Homo sapiens: one gene and its partners. The protein of the gene in region 2 interacts with the protein of the main gene of each other region in a pairwise test. Each region holds a gene or a part of one and is shown on either strand. Other genes may lie near its edges.

The links. The genes of interacting proteins can lie anywhere in the genome.
Region 1: the proteins of YWHAE (region 2) and DCLK2 interact in binary tests that used the Homo sapiens proteins (3 or more experiments, as listed by UniProt).
Region 3: the proteins of YWHAE (region 2) and LRRK2 interact in binary tests that used the Homo sapiens proteins (3 or more experiments, as listed by UniProt).
Region 4: the proteins of YWHAE (region 2) and WNK1 interact in binary tests that used the Homo sapiens proteins (3 or more experiments, as listed by UniProt).

What each region holds. Positions count from the first base shown.
Region 1 is NC_000004.12:150,248,433-150,253,934, reverse strand, and holds part of DCLK2 (serine/threonine-protein kinase DCLK2), read right to left. Parts: intron 4,368-5,502; coding exon 4,251-4,367; intron 462-4,250; exon of another isoform or gene 379-461; intron 1-378. UniProt on the Homo sapiens protein: Protein kinase with a significantly reduced C(a2+)/CAM affinity and dependence compared to other members of the CaMK family.
Region 2 is NC_000017.11:1,353,879-1,359,380, forward strand, and holds part of YWHAE (14-3-3 protein epsilon), read right to left. Parts: intron 470-5,502; coding exon 333-469; intron 1-332. UniProt on the Homo sapiens protein: Adapter protein implicated in the regulation of a large spectrum of both general and specialized signaling pathways. Binds to a large number of partners, usually by recognition of a phosphoserine or phosphothreonine motif.
Region 3 is NC_000012.12:40,359,985-40,365,486, forward strand, and holds part of LRRK2 (leucine-rich repeat serine/threonine-protein kinase 2), read left to right. Parts: exon of another isoform or gene 1-3,200; intron 3,201-3,417; coding exon 3,418-3,570; intron 3,571-4,857; coding exon 4,858-5,066; coding exon of another isoform or gene 5,067-5,149; exon of another isoform or gene 5,150-5,502. UniProt on the Homo sapiens protein: Serine/threonine-protein kinase which phosphorylates a broad range of proteins involved in multiple processes such as neuronal plasticity, innate immunity, autophagy, and vesicle trafficking.
Region 4 is NC_000012.12:758,067-763,568, reverse strand, and holds part of WNK1 (serine/threonine-protein kinase WNK1), read right to left. Parts: intron 1-5,502. UniProt on the Homo sapiens protein: Serine/threonine-protein kinase component of the WNK1-SPAK/OSR1 kinase cascade, which acts as a key regulator of blood pressure and regulatory volume increase by promoting ion influx.

The DNA of each region.
Region 1 (5,502 bases), on a different chromosome or scaffold from region 2:
TGATACAAACTCATCTTTGGAAATGCAGCTGGAGAAAGAACAAAAGCCTTCACGAAGGCACCATCTTAAGCTGCTCTTTCCGAAAAGCCACTTTTCACCTAAGTGGGAAACAGCATCGGTAGGAGAACTATGGGACTCCTCCCGTGCTCTCACCAGCTGTTGGTCTGGAAAGGCAGGCAGTGTGGTAAGCTGAGAAGTTTGAAAATAAAGTTTTCCAGGGGCCTGCTTGGCTGGCTGGAAAGGATGTGAGTAGGTACAAAAGACCCACACCAGTAAGCAGCTGAGAGCCGGACGGCGGCATCAGAAACTGAGACAAGCATGCAGGCGTGAGAGGGGCTGAGGATGGGGCGCGCTGGTCGGACGCAGCGTGGTGAATACCAGGATTCTGCTTCAGGCTCTCCCACTGTCTCAGCGGGGTAAAGAAGGAAACTCTGAGGTGCCTCTCAAACTGTCAAATCAAACTGTCAAACAAAATGCAGATAACACCATCAACTTTACTTTTTTTTCACCTTTATGGACCAATTTCTAGCCCATCATTTTCTCACTGAAGTCTCAGGCCCCAGCTCTGGGGATGAGAACACTAGGGTGACAGCAGATGGGAAGGTCCTGTCTGTAAGTTATCTGATGATTCAACCTCCAGACGGTTGACACTATTTCCACTATCATTTGTATCTGCAGAAAACCAGGTTGGCCCCACAGTCTCAGTTATGAGGACCTATGAGTACCAGGGAGAGTCATTTTGAGGTTATTTTTAATGTAAAAACACTTAAAACTGTTCCGAAGACAGGACACACAGTGACGTGAGGAGGATGAGGAGGATGAGGAGGATGAGGAGGACGAGGAGGATGAGGAGGACGAGGAGGACAATACAGCAGCATCGCAAGTTCCCCCACACAACCATGCCCCAGACCAGGTCCTGCGCCAGGGGAGGATCAGCAGCAGGCCTTCCCCTCCCACTTTTTGGGACAGCCCAAAAGTCACAGGCTGGTGTTTTGGCCATCGAGAATGGGTGCCACCAGAGGCAAGACTGATTGAATTTCCCTGTAGGTACTGAATGGGATCATGACATCAGCAGTTCCTCTGAGCTAACAGCCTGCAGAGTTGTGTAGGTAACATGGGGTTAGAGGGGACACCCTGCCAACATGCGCAAAATGACAACTGAACACACATAAACATACAACATTTACAATCACCATCAGAGCTGCAAACAATAACGGGTTGTTTGTTCACACAAACACCCTGTCAGAGCCCAGGGGTTTGTCTTTTGAGTCCTGAACTCCTCATCAGCAAATGGAAAATGGTATTTGTAAACCACACGACATAGGTTCTGTCTGAGGGGGTCTAAGCGTCATTATCTAGGACAGAGCCTGTAGAACAGCTAATCATTCCAGAATGTCAGCTGAGAGCCAGCCATAAAGAGGCCGGGCACAGGCCTATGGCCACTGATTCCTATCTGGGCCCCTGAGTCAAAAAGTGACCCCAGCAATGACTCCCTTCACAGTCTCCGAGCAAACTCTCCTAAGCCCTGGGCACAGGGCGGTTAAAGGTTCTTCCTCTCAGAAGACTTAACATGGTTATTAAATTTTGATCCTAACCAATCTCTCTTCTTAAGGTTTTTTCATGACACGTTGAGTATGCCAATTTTTAATGTTTTATTTTTCTAAATTTTCCAAGAAGCTGCCTTACAACGCAGTGCACAGCAAGACTGTGTACCACTGAGCCCATCCATCAATGCTAGCTCTCGCAAGGGAATCGCTGGAAACATTCTCATGCTGTTGGCTCAATCAAGATGGTTCTTTTCAAAGTGTCTAAGCTGTAATTCTTTGACAACTCTGACTTTCTCAGGCTTTCAGCAAAACACTGCTAAAATTCAAGGGAAACCACAACTCAAAAGGCCTTCTCACTGCTTTGGCACAGAGCGCCCCCAAAGTCCTGCAAGCCATCAAAAGACTCAGCTTGCAAACCCAGGCTCTGTCTGGAGAGGGAGAGAGGGAGAGAGGGAGAGCACACTTTCTGGCAGGGGAGCAGCTGGGGAGTTGCAAGGACACACAGAGGGTGGCCACATAAACGCAGCCGGGGGACAGAAGAGAATGACGGCCCAGTGGGTGCTGAGAACCTGGTGGACGCTCAATCCATATAACAGAGTGCTGCATGCTCGTGGGGTGTGTGGGGTGTGTGGGGAATGTGGGGTGTGTTCGGGTGTGGGGTGTGTGGGGGTGTTGGGGGTGTGTGGGGGTACCTGGTGTATGCTCAATGCATATAACAGAGTGCTGCACGCTCGTGGGGGCGGGGGGTGTGGGGTGTGTGGAGGTATGTGGGGTGTGTTCGGGTGTGGGGTGTGTAGGCTGTGTGGGCTATGTGGGGGTGTGGGGTGTGTGGGTGTGTATGTGGGGGGTGGGGGTGTGGGGGGTGTGGGGGGTGTGGGTGTGGGGTATGTGGGGGTTATGTGGGGTGTGTTGGGGTGTGGGGTGTGTAGAGTGGGGGGTGTAGGGGATGTGTGGTGCGGGGGATGTGGGTTGTGTGGGGGTGTGGGGGGTGTGAGGTGTGTGGGGATGTGTGGTGTGGAGGGTGTGCGGGATGTGTGGTGTGGGGGATGGGAGTGTGTGGGGGTATGTGGGGGTGTGTGGTGTGGGGGGTGTGAGGGAATGTGTGGTGTGGGGGGTGTGGGGGATGTGTGGGGTGTGGGGGATGTGTGGGGGTGTGGGGGATGTGTGGGGTGTGGGGGATGTGGGTGGTGTGGGGGATTTGGGGGGTGTGGGGGATGTGGGGGGTGTGGGGGATGTGTGGGGGGTGTGGGGGATATGTGTGGTGTGGGGGATGTGTGGTGTGGGGGGTGTGTGGGGGTGTTGGGGGGTGTGAGGGATGTGTGGTGTGGGGGATGTGTGGTGTGGGGGGTGTGAGGGATGTGTGGTGTGGGGGATGTGTGGTGTGGGGGGTGTGAGGGATGTGTGGTGTGGGGGATGTGTGGTGTGGGGGGTGTGAGGGATGTGTGGTGTGGGGGTGTGGAGGATTTGTGGTGTGTGGGGATGTGGGGGGTGTGGGGGGTGTGGGGAGTGTGGGGGATGTTGGGGGTGTGGGGATGTGGGTTATGTGTGTGGCTTCCTTATAGCTTCTATCTAGACCCTGCGTCTTCCTAGGTAAGGCTCTCAGACAACCATGTACCATGAGAATATGCCACTGTTTCCCTTCTAGTTGGGTAGGAAACAAGGAGGACCTTCCCAGAGGATGAGAGGCCTGTCCCAAGTACGAGTGACGGAGCTGTGGAGGTGGCCCATCCTTAGCTGTCAGGACTCAGTGGGGTCACGGGGGGCCCAGATGTGAAACTCAGACGCCCATCACCTTGGCAGGTCTGATTCGAAAGCTGCTGCAGCCAACTCCAGCTCTGGGAAAGGCCACTCCACCCCTGTTCCCTGCTCCTGGGAGTGTGTGGGGAGAACCAAGGTCCCTGCCTGGGTGGCTGGCTGGCTTCTACCTGCTCACGGTGAGCTGGCCTTCCCGCCCAGGGTTGCATTGGCTCAGGCCTGGACAGCTGCTGCGGGTGTGCTGCCCTCACCTCTGGTTCAATGTTTTTTCCTTTTGATTCATTTACTCTCATGTCACTTTTCATTTTAATTTGTTGTGTTTATGTATTTAGGAGAGTTGCCTTAAGAAACATTTTGGAAGAAGAAAAGGCTGAAAAAAATAAGGCCATCGTTGTCACTGACATCTCATAAAATGTTACCAACCCTGAAAAATGAATATATATTTTTTTCCTTGATTATGTACCTTTAAAAGCCCCAAACTGTGTTTTATAAAACACTGATTTTTTAAAACTGAAATATGTTTAGCTTTGGCTGTTTCTTATCCCAAGTCTCAAAGAATAATTCACATCTCTAATAATCTATTTCTGAGGCCTTGGGGTAGGCAGGGAGTTAATTCCTAACACAACACACCCCTCCAGGGCTTGGGAGTCTCTCTAGATGAGAAGGCAGAGACAAGAGTGGAAGCAGCTGCCCAGAGGGCCCAGCCAGGAGCTCCTTGACGCCTGGACCCCTCACACCAGGCCTGCTGGTCCCTACACAAGCCCCTCCACACAGTGCCCAAAGCCTGGGAGTTGCCGAATGAGTGCCCTCCACATGCCAAGCCAATCTTCATATGAAATAGGACTACGGAAGGCACCAACTTCCATGTGAGGGCAGCTCCCGGCTACCTAATTCAAAAACTTCAAGGCCGGCTCCGCAGTCAGGCCAGACCTGCCGCCTTCCACTCACCATGATGACGGAGACCCCGGTGGTAGTGCTGTTCTGTTTGGGGAGCGCATTATTAAAGTGCTGTTTTAGTTTACCTGTCACCTCAGCTTGCATGTTATTCTCCTGGGAGGCATCATCCTACAGGAAAGAAAACAATCAAATACAATGCTTTTTCCATCCTCCCGTTTGAGTTGTCTTTTCCTTAAGAGTCCCCCTCCCCGCCTCAACCACCCTCCTGACCTCTTCCTAAATGGGCCCCTCTTAGCCACAGAATTAGGGAAACAATGATCTTTCAAAAATAACTATTGTTATTCAGTAGGCCCATGCCCTCAGAAAGACCCCACACCATTCCCTCTGCCCCTCAGGACTAGAGTAGGCCCAGGAGAGGGCACAGGTCTCCCGGGACACAAAGCAGGACACACTTTAGGCTACTGAGACCCTCACCCAAGGCACACGATTTAGTATGATCCCTCCCATGGAAGCATCAAAGATCATTGTTTTTCACTTTAATCAAGAATTCATTTAGTTGTTAGTCTTTATTGCTTATAATAAAAAAAAATGTGGTATCTTAGCTACTTGGTCCAAGAACCACGTCATTTAGCCCAAGAGAGCAGCAAGCAGGGTCCAGAGAAACTGCACCTGGATGGTGGGTGGGTGGGGCATTGGAGGTACACAGGGAGCTTCCCAACCGGAGTCAACAAAGCCCTGGGCTAATTAAACTAACTTCACTCTCCTGGAGCCTCCCAGAAATGACGGAAATGGGAGAAATGTAATTCCCACAGTCCCCATTTATTGGATCATGTTTCCCTCCCAGAGACCACCTGAGCCTCTGGGAGGGAACTCTAGTCAATATCATGTGTCTCCACTCAGCTCTGAAGCGATCCTGTCTCAGCCTCCCCATCAACAGCAAGAGGTCTCCTGAGAGCACGTTCCCTGAAGGCACAAAGGTCAGGGTCTGAAACAGGCTCATCTCCAGGGCAAACCCTGGAAACTCTCAAACCCCAAACCGCAGAAGACGAGAGCTAAAAGCCTCCTGAAGGAGCACTGTGGCCAATTCCATTTTGCAGATAAGGAAACTGGGGCCAAGAAAGGGACAGTGACTTGCCCAGGTGACTCGCGGGGCAGGGTCTAAGACTGGGACCCTAGTGCCAACTGCTTTCTTGGGGAGCCATCTTTATGCTACTTGCTCAATGGGACAGACAGACATCTACCATGGAGCTTGGATGCATAACTTTTGCATGTGCAAACATCACAGTGAGGAACCGTGCTGTTG
Region 2 (5,502 bases):
ATAAATACCTACTGATACCATCTGGATTTAAATACACTTAACTTCAGCCCCCTAAAATTGAATTGAATGAAGATAAAATAAACTGCTTGCTCTCCACTCCTCCTGTCCTCAACCTTTGAAACAGTGTAAAGGAAGAGCTAAACTAAGTTCCCAAAATGGAACTCCGTACTGTAGCACCATTTCCTATAAAGGCAGCAATTACAATTTCATAGAGGGCAGGCGGTGAATCTAAATTCTAGCTTGATATAACGACAAGCCAAGGAATGTCTAAAGAGAGTACAAACAAATCCTGCAACTGAAAGAGGTGCCTGTTTCACTCCGTGCTTGCTTACCGTCACCCTGCATGTCTGAAGTCCATAGTGTCAGATTATCACGTAACAACTGCATGATAAGTGTAGAGTCCTTATAGCTTTCTTCACTCAGCGTATCCAGTTCTGCAATTGCATCATCAAAAGCTGCTTTTGCCAACCTAAAGGTATTTCAATAGAAGTGTTATAAAAATTAAGTCCAAAATCAGAATTAGAAATGACATGCTAGACAGCAATCTTTTCTTCAGTTATTCCAGTTTGTAATAGTCACAATGATAATGCAAAGAAAAAGCAAATACAATAAAAATTAACTTAAAGGTATGTGGAACACTACTTCTTACTATGCTTTAAGCCTGCTACTGATATGCTATAATATACATATCGACTAATAAAATACATAGAACAACTTCCATCCTAAACCATCACCAAAAAATATACCTCCAAGTTCTAGGCAATAGTTCACTTATTTCAAAAAGTTTTGTTTGTTTGTTTTTAAGACGGAGTCTGGCTCTGTCGCCCAGGCTGGAGTGCAGTGGCGTGATCTCGGCTCACTGCAAGCTTCGCCTCTCAGGTTCATGCCATTCTCCTGCCTCAGCCTCCCGAATGGCTGGGACTACAGGCGCCCGCCACCACACCCGGCTAATTTTTTGTATTTTTAGTAGAGATGGGGTTTCACCGTGTTAGCCAGGATGGTCTCGATCTCCTGACCTCGTGATCCACCAGCCTCAGCATCCCAAAGTGCTGGGATTACAGGCGTGAGCCACCGCGCCCAGCCTAGTTTTTTTTTTTTTTTTTTTTTTTTTTTTTTTTTAAGGGATTCGTTATGTTGCCCAGGCTGGACTTGAACTCCTGCGTTCAAGCAATCTTCCGAACCTTAGCCTCTTGAGTGGCTGGGACAAACGGTACACACTACCACCCCCAAGATTTTTTAAAAAAAAAAAAAAAAAAAAAAAAAAAAAAAATTTTTTTTTTTTTTTTTTTTTTTTGGGGGACGGGGTCTCGCTCTATCACCCAGGCTGGAGTGCAGTGGCGGGATGTAGGCTAAATGCAAGCTCCGCCTCCTGGGTTCACACCATTATCCTGCCTCAGCCTCCCGAGTAGCCGGGACTACAGGCGCCCGCCACCACACCCGGCTGATTTGTTTTTATATTTTTAGCAGAGGCAGGGTTTCACCGTGTTAGCCAGGATGGTCTTGATCTTCTGACCTCGTGATGTGCCCGCCTCAGCCTCCCAAAGTGCTGGATTACAAGGTTGAGATATTTAACAAAGTATTAATGCAAAAAGAAAATCTTGGACAATACCTCAAAGTTTAAAAAAATTTAATTTCACGTTAATGGAGGCAGGGAAGCAAAGAAAATAAAAGGCAACACAGACGCCATGGAAATGTGATTATGTAAGCCATTTACAGTTTTAAAAGAAAATCCACACTTACTGAGTACTGTGTACTATGTCCAACAAACGATACGATATACCAATAGAAAAAAAAGAGACATAATCTAAGTCCACATCAACTTAAAAATTTAGAAATGGAGGGTAGACAAATACATAACTATTTTACAAGGAGGAGGCTGGCTGTGGTGGCTCATGCCTGTAATCAGCACACTTTGGGTGGCTGATGCGTGCGCGCAGATCACTTGAGGCCAGGAGTTCAAGACCAGCCGGGCCACCATGGCAAAACCTATTAAAAACACAAAAAATTAGGCCGGGTGCAGTGGCTCAAGCCTGTAATCCCAGCACTTTGGGAGGCAGAAGCGGGCGGATCACGTGGTTAGGAGATCGAGACCATCCTGGCTAACACAGTGAAACCCCGTCTCTACTAAAAATACAAAAAAATTAGCCGGGAGCAGTGGCAGGTGCCTGTAGTCCCAGCTACTTGGGAGGATGAGGCAGGAGAATGGTGTGAACCCAGGAGGCGGAGCCTGCAGTGAGCCGAGATCACGCCACTGCAGTCCAGCCTGGGCAACAGAGCAAGACTCCGTCTAAAAACACACACACACACACACACACACACACACACACACACACACACAAAATTAGCCGGGCATGGTGGCGTATGCCTGTAATCCCAGCTACTCAGGAGGCTGAGGCAGAAGAATCCCTTGAACCTGGGAGGCGGAGGTTGCAGTGAGGTGAAACTGTGCCAATGCACTCCAGCCTGGGCAAGAGAGCACAAAAACAAAAGAAGAAGAAGAATGAAGTGCTATTCCAAATAAAGTATTTCAGGGACCCAGAAGGAGGAGCAATTAAAGGGAAAGTCAAATTTGAACTAATCTCAATGGATAAGGAGAAAACAAAACACACTTCAGGTTTAAGCAGAAGCATGAGCAAAGGCATGCGAGTGACTTTAAACTGGAGCTACACGTGGGACAGCTAGACTGGAGTCTGACAAGGAAAGGTGCAACCACCAGTATTAGCTAAATAGCCACAGCTTCTTCAGTTACGATCCCTATCTGGACAAACTCAACTAGCCATTTAGAATGTTTTTACATTGGCTGGGCGCAGTGGCTCACGCCTGTAATCCCAGCACTCTGGGAGGCTGAGGCAGGTGGATCACCTGAGGTCAGGAGTTCGAGACCAGCCTGACCAAGATGGTGAAAACCTGTCTCTACTAAAAATGCAAAAAAAAAAAAAAATTCAGTCAAGCGCAGTGAAGCATGCCTATAATAGTCAACATTAAAGTTCCAATGTATCAGTTAATCCCCTTTCCTCAAACTTTGAAAGGCTTTCACTTAAAAACCCTACTTTGCTTAAGCAGTTGTCCTCAAACAAACCAAAAAAAAACACATACAAAAACCAAAAGGGGCCGGGCGCGGTGGCTCACGCCTGTAATCCCAGCACTTTGGGAGGCCGAGGAGGGCAGATCACGAGGTCAGGAGATCGAGACCATCCTGGCTAACACAGGGAAACCCCATCTCTATTAAAAATACAAAAAATAGGCCGGGCGCGGTGGCTCACACCTGTAATCCCAGCACTTTGGGAGGCCGAGGCGGGTGGATCACGAGGTCAGGAGATCGAGACCATCCTGGCTAACACGGTGAAACCCCATCTCTACTAAAAATACCAAAAATTAGCCGGGCGTGGTGGCGGGCGCCTGTAGTCCCAGCTACTCGGGAGGCTGAGGCAGGAGAATGGCGTGAACCCGGGAGGCAGAGCTTGCAGTGAGCCGAGATCGCGCTACTGCACTCCAGCCTGGGGGACATAGCGAGACTCCGTCTCAAAAAAAAAAAAAAAAAAATACAAAAAATTAACCGGGCGTGGTGGCGGGTGCCTGTAGTACCAGCTACTTGGGAGGCTGAGGCGAGAGAATCGCCTGAACCCAGGAGGCTGAGCTTTCAGTGAGCTGAGATCACGCCACTGTACTCCAGCCACAGCAGCAGAGTGAGACTCCGTCAAAATAAAAAAAAAAAGCAAAAAAACCATTTTGCTACTGCAATATTTACTGTAAAAATTTAAAATAGGCTGGGTGCAGTGGCTCACGCCTGTAATCTCGGCACTTTGGGAGGCCGAGGTGGCTGGATCACTTAAGGTGAGGTGTCCAAGACCAGCCTGGCCAACACTGTGAAAACCCATCTCTACATAAAAATACAAAAATTAGCTGGGTATGGTGGCGGGCGTCTGTAATCCCAGCTACCTGGGAGGCTGAAGCAGGAGAATCGCTTGAAACCGGGAGGCAGAGGTTGCAGTGAGCTGAGATTGCACCACTGCACTCCAGCCTGGGAAACACAGCGAGACTCTCCTCTCGGGGGAAAAAAAAAAAGAAAAAGACAATAGCAAAAAACAACAACAACAACAAAATGCCAACCTACAGAAGAGGAGAAAATACTCACAAACCATTTACTTGCTAAGAGGTTACTATCTGGAATAATGAACTCTCAACACTTAACAAACGAAAAAAACATGAATTCAAAAATGGGCAAAAGGGCCTGGTGCAGTGGCTCAGGCCTGTATTCTCAGCATTTTGGGAGGCTAAGGCAAGAGGATTACTTGAGGCCAGGATTTCAAGACCAGCTTCGGCAACACAGCCAGACCCTGCCTCTACAAAACAAAACAACAAAAAAAAATTTTTTTTTTGAGACGGAGTCTCGCTCTGTCGCCCAGGCTGGAGTGCAGTGGCGTGATCTTGGCTCACTGCAAGTTCCGCCTCCCAGGTTCACGCCATTCTCCTGCCTCAGCCTCCCGAGTAGCTGGGACTACAGGCGCCCGCCACCACGCCCGGCTGATTTTTTGTATTTTTAGTAGAGACGGGGTTTCACCACGTTAGCCACGATGGTCTCGATCTCCTGACCTCGTGATCTGCCCTCCTCGGCCTCCCAAAGTGCTGGGATTACAGGCGTGAGCCACTGCACGCAGCCCAAAAAAAATTTAAAAATTGGCCGGGCGCAGTGGCTCATGCCTGTAATCCCAGCACTTTGGGAGGGAGGCTGAGGTCAGGAGTTTGAGACCAGCCTAACCAAGATAGTGAAACCTCGTCTCTACTAAAAATGCCCCCAAAAATTAGCCAAGCATGGTGGCACATGCCTGTAATCCCAGCTACTTGAGAGGCTGAAGCACCAGAATCGCTTGAATCTGGGAGGTGGAGGTTGCAGTGAGCTGCGATCGCACCACTGTACTCCAGCCTGGCCAGCAGAGCGAGACTCCATCTTAAAAAAAAAAAAAAAAAAGGGCTGGCCAAGCACAGTGGCTCACACCTGTAATCCCAGAACTTTGGGAGGCCGAGGCGGGCAGATCACACGAGGTCAGGAGTTCGAGACTAGCCTGGCCAACACTGTGAAACCCCATCCCTACTAAAAATACAAAAAATTAGCCAGGCATGGTGGCAGGCGCCTATAATCCCAGCTACTTTGGATGCTGAGGCAGGAGAATCGCTTGAACCTGGAAGGCAGAGGTTGCAGTGGGCCAAGATCACGCCACTGCACTCCAGCCTGGGTGACAGTGCCAGGCTCTCCCTCAAAAAAAAGAAAAAAGAAAAAAAAAAGGAAAAGAAAAGGCCAGGTATGGTGGCATCCACCTCTAGTGACAGCTACTTGGAAGGCTCAGGTAGGCGAATCGGCTGAGCCCAGGAAGCCAAGGCTGCAGTGAGCTATGAGTGCACAACTGCAGAGACAGAACAAGATCCTGTCCGGAAAAAAAAGTTACCCACAGAATTTTCAGTCCCAATTCCACCTCAAGGTGAAGTTAAATACAAGGACTCAAG
Region 3 (5,502 bases), on a different chromosome or scaffold from region 2:
TGCTTTTTTTCAGTGGTATTTTAATCAAATCTTTGCAGTTGGTTCTTATTTATCACATTCCTCAGTGATAAGCAGTATAGGATTGTGGATAAGAGCATAAATCATAGTTCAGATATTGCTTTGCCATCTATTGGTTTTGTGAACTTGGGCAATAACCTTTCACATCTTCAGTCATCTCTTACCTGAGGATTGTAATATTCTCTATCTCAAAGAGATATTTGGAGGAGTAAATAAGAATGTTAATATATGGATCTTAATTAACATAATGACCAGCACCTGGTAAGCTGTCAATAAACATTAGCTATTATTATTATTATTAGCTTTGAGTCACAAATCCCTACCTTAGGGAATATCCTGGTTTCCCATTATCCATCAAATTTCCCAAGATTGGCACTTGGGAGTAATCTTTGACTCCTTTGTTTTTTGCTCCCTTTATCCACTTGACCCTCCTAATTGTCATTTGAATCTTTGTACTTCTCACTGTTCTCAGTGCTGGTACCATGGGCCAGACTGCCATCCATTATCTGTGGCCACATTAACAAGAGCATCCAGTTCTCACCCTCTGATTATACTCTCTTCAACATATTTTCAGCATTGCAGACAGAGGGACCTTTCTAAAATGTACATCAATCTGATGCAATTTTCCTGCTTAAAACCCTTCAGTGGTATCCCATTGTCCTTTATATGAAGTCCAAATTCCTTAAGACAGCCTACTGGGCCCTTCATAATTCAGTGCTTGCTTACCTGTCTAGATTCATATTTTGCAAGCTTTTTGCCATCTGTGCTTTACCCAAACTGAAATTGACTCAGATCTCTAAGACAACCTGTTATTACCTTTCACCCCCAACCTTTGAATGTGGTCTTCTCCTTACCTGGATGACTATTATGCCCCCTGCCTATTTCAGTCCAAGCACCACTTGCTCTGAGTGGCAGGTTAGGTGACTTTGTGCTTCCATTGCATCTAATGTTTTCCTTCACAGTAGCTATAATTGTATTTGTTAAAGTAGTTTCTCAATACCACTAAATCTACTGGCTTTCAACATTGGCTGTGCATTTAGAAACCACTAGGTAGCTGAAAATAATATGATACCTGGGCCCTACCTCAGACCAATTAAATCAGACCAGTTAAGCCTGGGATGGGGATCAGATTTTTTTTTTCAGGTTCTCAAGTGATTCTAAAGTATATTTGAGGTTAAGATATACTGCGGAGTGCAGTGTATTATAAGTTCCCATGAATGAGGATTTTTATTTCTGTCTTTACATATTTATTTACTAGTATGTGGTTAACATTTGGATCAACTCATTCTCATTCTGTAATACCCACATTTTAAAAAATGAATGTAAAAATGTCTTTTATTATTTTTATTTTTCAAATTTAATTTTAGATTCCAGGAATACATGTGCAGGTTTGTTACAAAAGTATAGTGCGTGATGCTGAGGTTTGGAATACAACTGAACTCACAACCCAGAAAGTGGGCATAGTGCTTGATAGGTAGTTTTTCATCTTTGCTCCCCTTCCTGTAATTTCCACTTTTAACCCAATTATACAAGCCTGAAAACCTTTAAAAAGAAAGGGCCTCCAGTTTATTTTTTTATTTCATAGCACATTTTATGGGATTATGGATATCAGTTAACTCTTTAAAGTTCCATATAAGATTTGGAGCATAGATGCTTTACTAGAGAGCATCCATAAAGATCAAGCTCTCAAAGATGCTCATCTCCCAAAAGAGATTGGGACCTAGATGCATAAACACTTAAATATAAATATTTGCTCTCTTCTGAACAAGTATCTCCTGTGGCCTTGGTCTCTACCCCACAAAACAGACATCACATCACTAATCAGGGGTTGCCTCATCATCAGTACCCTCATCATCATCAGTACACACCGACTGAGAGGCATGTTGGGTAATGAAAGATGACTGCCTTTGAAGCCGGAAGACTCCATAGGACTTTTGGAGTTCTAGGTCTGCAACATGTTTTTAGTCCTAGGTCGGCAAGCATGATGTTAGTCATAGGACCTTGAGCAAATTATTTAGCATTTGTACATGTTTCTTTCTACTATTAAAAACATTGAGATTTATCATATTTTATGTTTTTTTATTAAGGATCAAGCAAGATAACACACAAAAGTATTTTATAAAATACGGAAATTCCATGCAAAACTTTGTCCTAATTGGAACTATTTTCTATTAAATACAGCAAATATCCAAGAAGGAATTACCTAAAGCGTAGTGGCTCTCTGACAACACATCATATTTTTACCTCCTTTTCCAGAATAGAAAGAAAAGGGGGAGGAAAAAAAATCTTCCTACTCTAGGATATACTAATGATTGTTAAATCTTTATGGTATTTTCATGTTATCTATCTGATTTAAATGCAATTTTGACTATTTTTACATATTCCTCGTTGTTCATTCATACTGTAGTGCCTTCTTCTATTCCCCCACTTAACAGACTGCTTGATTATATCAGAGGTGCTTATCTGTGCAACTGTTTACTGGACGAGGGGTATGTAGAAAATACATTGTCCTCATCCTTATGAAATTACACTCATAATCTAGTGTGAGGGATGCACTAATAAAGACAATTTTATATTTAATAAGGTCTATAATATGACAGTGACACCAGTGGGGAAAAGGGACTGGTTGGTCTATTTTGATAGGTCAGGGAAGAAATCCAGAGGAGCCGACATTTAAGTTCATCCTCAAAGGCCAAGTAGGAGTTTGCCATGCTGATGTGGCCCAAGGTAGCCAATCTGTTTGTGAAATATGTACAATGCCAGATGTCTTAGGTTGAAAGGGAAATATTTTAAGGTGTTCGTAATTTTTCTTTATGTTTAAAAGGGGAAAATGGCAAATATTTTACTTTCTGTTTATGTTTGGATGATGTGGATTTTTGTTTTCTATAATTTGACTGGCTTAACTGCAAAGATATCCCTTGCTTTAAAATTTGAAGACACTGCAACTAAATTTTATTTCAGCATTTTATATTTTATAACTCTAGGTATAAAAGGCTAACACTTAATTTTCTGAGCATTCATGAAACAAAGTTTTGCAAGAACATTCAAAAGTTACAGATATAATATTTCCTTCAGAAATTTAGATATAGTACAAAATTCTACAAAGAGCCACATAGAATTGAAACTAAAAGTAAGACCAAAGTAAACATTGGACATAATCTTTATTTTATTATCACAAGAAATTAATATAAAGTAACCAAAAGTAAGTAAAGTACCAAAGCATGTTATATATTCAATTCAGAATGGTTAGGGAAGAATATGAAATAATTGCAATAGTCTAGCTTGTTTAGTTTTCAAAATAGTGTTTTTACATTAAGAACTAATATAAGGTTGTATTACACGTAGAAATTTTAAGAAGAAAACAAATAGTGATGACTTTCTATTTTTTTTTCTCTGTAGGTTTTCTTATGCAGCTTTCAGTGATTCCAACATCATAACAGTGGTGGTAGACACTGCTCTCTATATTGCTAAGCAAAATAGCCCTGTTGTGGAAGTGTGGGATAAGAAAACTGAAAAACTCTGTGGACTAATAGACTGCGTGCACTTTTTAAGGTAAATTCTGTGGTTTTTAATTTTATTCCCAAAAGAATTATCTTTGCACTTCATGTGTCACAGAGGAAGGATTTTTCTTCCTTTCTGCCTCTGAATAGAGAATTTTTTTAAAATGCAGAAAAAAATTTGTAATGCTTCTCAGCACCATCTTTTCAGATCAAGAAAATTTTGTCTTCAGAACATAAAAGAATAGGCACATAATGTGCATAGTTTTCTCATGGTATTACAAAGAATGTTCTCGAATGAAAATACTACATTATTGAAAATGAGCATATTGGAGTCTCTGCTAGCTTTGACATAGTTCTGTCACAGTGTCAAATATACTATTTATAATTAAATTATGGGCCCCAGGATTATCTGCTCTAAAGAAAAAGAGTCACAAAATAATAGACAAATATGGGGGGAAATGCAATGGACTGACCGAGGCGCTAAGGAGTGGGGATCAAGACCCCAGAATGAGAGCATAGTGCTTAGTCTGATGCAGCCTGTGAGTGACAAATCCATAGCAAGCACATTCTTTCTGTGCTGGTGCTGAGAAACAGGACCATTTTCAAGCTTATTTGCTAGCCACTTTATATTTTTATTTTGTTTTGATTTTACCATATAGATCTATGATACTCTTGAGAACATTTTAGATTACACACTATATCTGTAAAAGGATACTTCAAAGTTTCCTGTCTTAGATTCATCTGACAGTTTTTCTATGGATTGTGAGAAGGGCTCACAGTTTATGTTCAGAAGGGCCAACAGGTCTCCTTGATAAAGGGTTCCTTACTTCCTGAAGTACCAAAACGATTAGGATTCTTTTATTTCTGGACACTTCATTTTTGTCATGAATTAGACTATTCACTGGTTCTGGGAAAAAATTCAGTGGTTTGTATCGATATCTTTTACATGTGAATGACTATAATTTTATGTTCCTTTGTAACATTGAGACTTCATGTAAAACTTTTGACTCTAACTTTTTTTTTTCTTTATCCTGGGCACATGTATGCTATTTTTACTGAATTAGATAGCTTTGGTATTTATAAAAATTGTATCCCTCTTATTCATAATTTCCTGAAAATGAAGGGCTATTGTTATCTTTGATAATTTATGCTTCAAGTAAAGAAGTGTGGCTCTTTGGCATCTGTATTTAGCAAAATTTGCTTTGTATAATTTTAATGATGCATAATGGTGGTGGTGTCATGTTTTAATAATTTAAAATGTTGTTTATGTTATCATATGTAAATAGCATTTATCTCTTAATTGGTGGTAAAATTATTAATGTATACTTTATGGTTCTAGGGAGGTAATGGTAAAAGAAAACAAGGAATCAAAACACAAAATGTCTTATTCTGGGAGAGTGAAAACCCTCTGCCTTCAGAAGAACACTGCTCTTTGGATAGGAACTGGAGGAGGCCATATTTTACTCCTGGATCTTTCAACTCGTCGACTTATACGTGTAATTTACAACTTTTGTAATTCGGTCAGAGTCATGATGACAGCACAGCTAGGCAAGTTTCTTTCCTTTAGATATTTTTCATATTCTCTAAGTCTTATAAAATATGCCTTTATTTTACGTTTACATTTTCTCTGAACTTTCCAGTGTCATATGGATGGTCTTGGAGGGTCACACAGTGAAACATAAGACTGGTATAAATTGTGAATAGGGTCATTACAGAAGTGGAGGGAGTAAATGCTCTCAGTCCCACAAGAGAAGCAGATTACTGCAGCTGAACACTCAGTTTGGGTCTTACTTGCTTTTTTCCTTTTTACCTAAGGCAAAAATGGGAAATACATGGTATTGAATATATTTTACTTTTTGAGCAAAGAAAATAAAGAAAATGTTTGTTTTAATCATAGTCTAGCCTCCCAGCTTGTTAAAGAATCTCATTTGGTTTTTCATTCTATAACAAATCTTTTTTCTTGCAGCAATACATGCTGAACTGC
Region 4 (5,502 bases), on a different chromosome or scaffold from region 2:
CGCCCAGGCTGGAGTGCAATGGCGCAATCTTGGCTCACTGCAACCTCCACCTCCCGGGTTCAAGTGATTCTCCTGCCTCAACCTCCCAAGTAGCTGGGATTACAGGCATGCACCACCACACCCGGCTAGTTTTTTTTTTGTATTTTTAGTAGAGACAGGGTTTCACCATGTTGACTAGGCTGGTCTCCAACTTCTGACCTCAGGTTATCCACTAACCTCGGCCTCCCAAAGTGTTGGGATTACAAGCGTGAGCCACCACGCCTAGCCAACAATTCACGACTTTTAAATTGTGTGCCATTCTGACTAGTGTGATGAAATCTCGAATGGGACATGTCATCCCTTTGTTCAGCATATTCACACTGTTAATGCCACCCACCCATCTCGTCCTTTAGTCACTTAGTCTAATGGGTTATGGGATGGAAAAAGCAAAGTATGCATAGGGTTCAGTAGTGTCTGTAGCTTCAGGTATCCACGGGAGGTCTTGCAAACCTCAAAGTAAACAGAACCAAAAGATAAAAATACGGACCAGGAGTGGTGGCTCACACCTGTAATTCCAGCACTTTGGGAGGCCGAGGCTGGCGGATCGCCTGAGGTCGGGAGTTGGAGACCAGCCTGACCAACATGGAGAAACCCCACCTCTACTAAAAATACAAAATTAGCTGGGCATGGTGGCGCCTTCCTGTAATCCCAGCTACTCGGGAGGCTGAGGCAGGAGAATCCCTTGAACTCAGGAGGCAAATGTTGTGGTGAGCCGAGATCGCGCCATTGCACTCCAGCTGGGCAACAAGAGTGAAACTCTGTCTCAAAAAAAAAATGAAAAGCAGGAGAAAAAAATAACCATTATCCCCTAAGAAGAAGAGTGGGGACTACTGGAATCTCTACACTTCCCCCTGTATGCCTTTAATCTATTTTTGGGCAATTACTGCTATGCAAATCTAACCAATTAACTTCTCTGTTTAAAACTCAACTCTTCAGTTACTCTCTACTTTCTACACATAAGAACAGTCCGCCCTCCACATCCTCAGGTTCCATATCCACATGTTCTGCATCCATGGATTCAACTAACTGCAGATGAAAATATTGGGGGAAAAAACAATAACAAAACACAATAATAAAAAACAACATGAATTTTAAAACACTACAGTATAAAAACTATTTACATAGCACTTACATTGTATTAGGTATTATAAGTAATTTAGTGATGACTTAAACTATACGTGAGGAGCCACACCTGTAATCCCAGCGTTTTGGGAGGCAGAGGCAGATGGATCACTTGAGGTCAGGAGTTCGAGACCAGCCTGGCCAACGTGATGAAACCCCATCTCTACTAAAAATACAAAAATTAGTTGGGCATGGTAGCATGTGCCTGTAATCCCAGCTACTCGGGAGGCTGAGGCATGACAATCGCTTGAACCCAGGAGGCAGAGGTAGCAGTGAGCTGAGATTGTGCCACTGTACTCCAGCCTGGGCAACAGAGCAAGACTCAGCCTCAAAAAAAAAAAAAAATTAAATTAAAAAATAAACTATACAGGAGGATGTACTACTGTAGGTTATATGAAAATACACCATTTTATTTAAGAGACTTGTGCATTTGTGAATTTTGGTACCCTGGGGTGGGGGCTGTCTGGAACCAATCTCCTGTGTATACTGACGGATGACTGTGTGTGAGAGGGGCAATATGGAGAGTTCAAAGAACATTTTAATATGACAATGATATCTAGTAACTCTTTAGCATGTTAAAGAGATAAATCTGTTGCATTTCCCGATTTACCTTAATCCACAATAATCTACCAGTCCATGGAAGGAGATGATCCACATAAAGATAGATATATCAGGTTATGTAGCTCAAAACTCTTAGCCATGAAAATGATCTTATCCCAAGAAATCTGTTAATCTCTATCTAGTAACAGAGAATGTGCACATTAATCATTTGATTCACTAATTAATTTCATCTCTCACTGTTTGGTTTATACATTAGTGTGTGTTTGGTTAACTAGACCATCTACCACGTATCTACTGACAAAAATAATATTGTCTCTGAGAAGCTGAACCTCAGCTGCACAAAAGGTATCTGCAGGAATGACTGTGGTTTTTCTTAACTAACCTGAGTATGATGATTACAACAAGCAAATTTCCAAACACTCTTAAATTCAAACTGTTAAAATTCTTAAGAATTCTTACATTCCTGAGAAAATTATTTGCTTGTTATGACTAACAGCTTATCTGAGGACTCTTCTAAAAAATCATTCCAACATATTCATTTAGCATAATGTATTTAATATGGTAATTTGGCAAAGCCAAGATTCAAGTCACAACACTAAAAAGTAAATTATTTATGAAACCCCACCTGAAAAATCTAAATTAATGTAAGTGAAGGTGGAGATATTATATGATCAATTAAGTTGGCCACAAAACCACAGCTTACTGATGCTTTTCCTCTTATGTAAAAATCACAAATAACCAATCTTTTAAAAACTACATATAGACCAGGAACGGCGGCTCATGCCTGTAATCCCAGCACTTTAAGAGGCCAAGGCAGGTGGATCACCTGAGGTCAGGAGTTTGAGACCAGCCTGTCCAACACGGTGAAACTCTGTCTCTATTAAAAATACAAAAAAAAAAAAAAAATTAGCCGGGTGTGGTTGTGGGTGCCTGTAATCCCAGCTACTCTGGAGGCTGAGGCAGGAGAATCGCTTGAACACAGGAGGTGGAGGTTTCAGTGAGCCAAGATCCCAAGATCACGCCACTGCACTCCAGCCTGGGCGACAGAGCAAGACCCCATCAAAAACAACAACAATAAAAAAAAAACTACATATAAAATTAAGCCTGCTACCTGTCAAAGGCATAATCATCTTCCAAATAAAATATTAAGAGCTTCTGACAATGTTTCTTCAAACTGAAAAGCTCCCCTGTTAAGATTTGAGAAATTAAGTTGACAAAGCAAAAAGCTCCTAAAATCCAACTAAGTTTAATATATTCCATTTGTAATAGGTGACAATTTATAGCCTTCTAAATGAATATTTAAGTATTCTGTTATATTTTATATAACACTTAACATTTTTCAAAGTACATTCACATAGTATTTCAGTGGATCTTCAACAATCCTAAATCAGTAAGACATATTGCTAATAAATGAGCATTATAGATTAAGTTCCTTACTCAAAGCTCAGAAAATTGGGTAATCTAGAACTCAAGGGTTCTGCCTTGGTGCTCCTTTTCATTGTATAGTATTCTATTACACCATAGTGAACTTTCCAAAGACTAATGGATTAGACAAAATATATAAACAATTTCAATATGATAAATAAATACTATAAGAATTATATATGAGATCCACCAAAAGAAAATATGCTTTCTAGATACATGCAAAGATGAGACAAGGATCTTAGCAGATTCTGAAAATAAGCAGTTCAGAAAGATTGGCATTTGGGTGATGGGTCACAAAATTAAAATGTTAGGCAAAGGCCAGGTAGAGCTAAGGAATTTAAAAGCACCAGTAACATAAAGATCAATACCTGCTTTCCTCCTCCTCCAAGAACAGTAGTTAAGTTTTGCTATATGATTTTTCAAGCATAAATATAAACAAACAAAATCTTCACAGATTCCCTCAAAAGGACAACCTAAAAAAGATGCTGCATCATCACAGTTAATATTTATGTGGCAGGCCCTATCCTACATGTTTTATATATGTTCATTCATTTAATCAGCACAACTCTATAAAATGGGTACTCTTTTTTACACCCATTTTACAGACAGGAAACTGTAGCACAAAACTTGCTCAAGGTGACACAATTATGTAGCTGAGCCTTGATTTGAGCCCAGGCAATCTAGTTCTTAACTACTATGTTACAAGGCAGAAAAATGGCCTCTTCAAACATAAACTGAGGTCATGCTAAGTCTCACCTATTCCTGCAGACCAGGTTTTAAAACAAAACAAAACGGCTGAGCATGGTGGCTCAAGCCTGTAATCCCAGGACTTTGGGAGGCCAAGGCGGGCAGATCACGAGGTCAGGTGTTCAAGACCAGCCTGGCCAACATGGTGAAACCCCATCTCTACTAAAAATACAAAAATTAGCCGGGCGTGGTGGCGCTCGCCTGTAATCCCAGCTACTCAGGGGGCTGAGGCAGGAGCATTGCTGGAACCCGGGAGGTGGAGGTTGCAGTGAGCCGAGATCGCGCCACTGTACTCCAGCCTGGGCGACAGAGTGAGACTCTGTCTCAAAAACAAAAAAACAAAAAACTCAAACAAAATGCAAGTTACTAAATATATAATTTAAATTATCAATATAATTTAAAGAACTGGTATAGCAAAGGTGTACTAACGGTAATTATGAATTATTTCATAGTATGCTAAATATTTTCAGAAATGATAATTGAGTACAGCTACTCTTGCTGCTTTTACAGCTTTATCTAAAAAAATGTAAAAACTACCAGAAAACCCAAATAACAGGTTTAGGATGATTTCTGAAAATGAGAGCCCAGTTTTAGTTGAATGTTTCCATAGGGATGAACTAAGATGAATTTTATTTATATTTATATACATATATTTTTTATTTTTTGAAATTCTTTGATAAGCTGCTGGTGGAATAAGATAAATTTTAAATGACTAGGCTCTTGCATCAGAATTTGAATGTCAAGAAATGAATTGTCACAAAGCAACAATAGATTCCTGGTTTGTTTTACACAAAAACAACCTCTTTCCAGGTTTTTAGATTACTTCTCAGACTGTGTTACTACGGGTCAGAAAAAAGGTAAGAGAAAAAAATTTGCCAATACTCCTAATCGGTGACTTTGAGGATTTAAGAACAAACTCCAAAAACTATTCCCTGAGACGGAAAGTTACGCTGATTCTCATCCTAAAAAATAAGGAATGTGGCACAAATTTAAAAGATAAGAGGGAAAAAATCACCAACATTCAAATAGAGAGATTCAGTTCAATTAGATATTTTAAGAACTATAGCAGACCATCCTGGCTAACAAGGTGAAACCCCGTCTCTACTAAAAATACAAAAAATTAGCCGGGCACGGTGGCGGGCGCCTGTAGTCCCAGCTACTCGGGAGGCTGAGGCAGGAGAATGGCGTGAACCCAGGAAGTGGAGCTTGCAGTGAGCCGAGATTGCGCCACTGCAGTCCGCAGTCCGGCCTGGGCGACAGAGCGAGACTCCGTCTCAAAAAAAAAAAAAAAAAAAAAAAAAGAACTATAGCAAAGAAATAAATGATGGTTTCTTAATCACAGAACCACATCCCATTTCTGTAACACTGCTATACTATTCACAAAATATTAATGTCATGTACTCATGACACACAGTCTTAATAAAAGACAGAGAAAAATAAGCAGTTAAGTATATTGGAGCTTCAACAAAAATATGATTTAACCTCTCTTTTCAGGTAGATGTGGAAACAATCTCATCAACATATAACGCATCATGTGAACTCTTCAGAGGCAACTTGGGAAGGTGCTTAAAATAAATCATTCTTAAATCTGTGCATCAATGTTTTCTT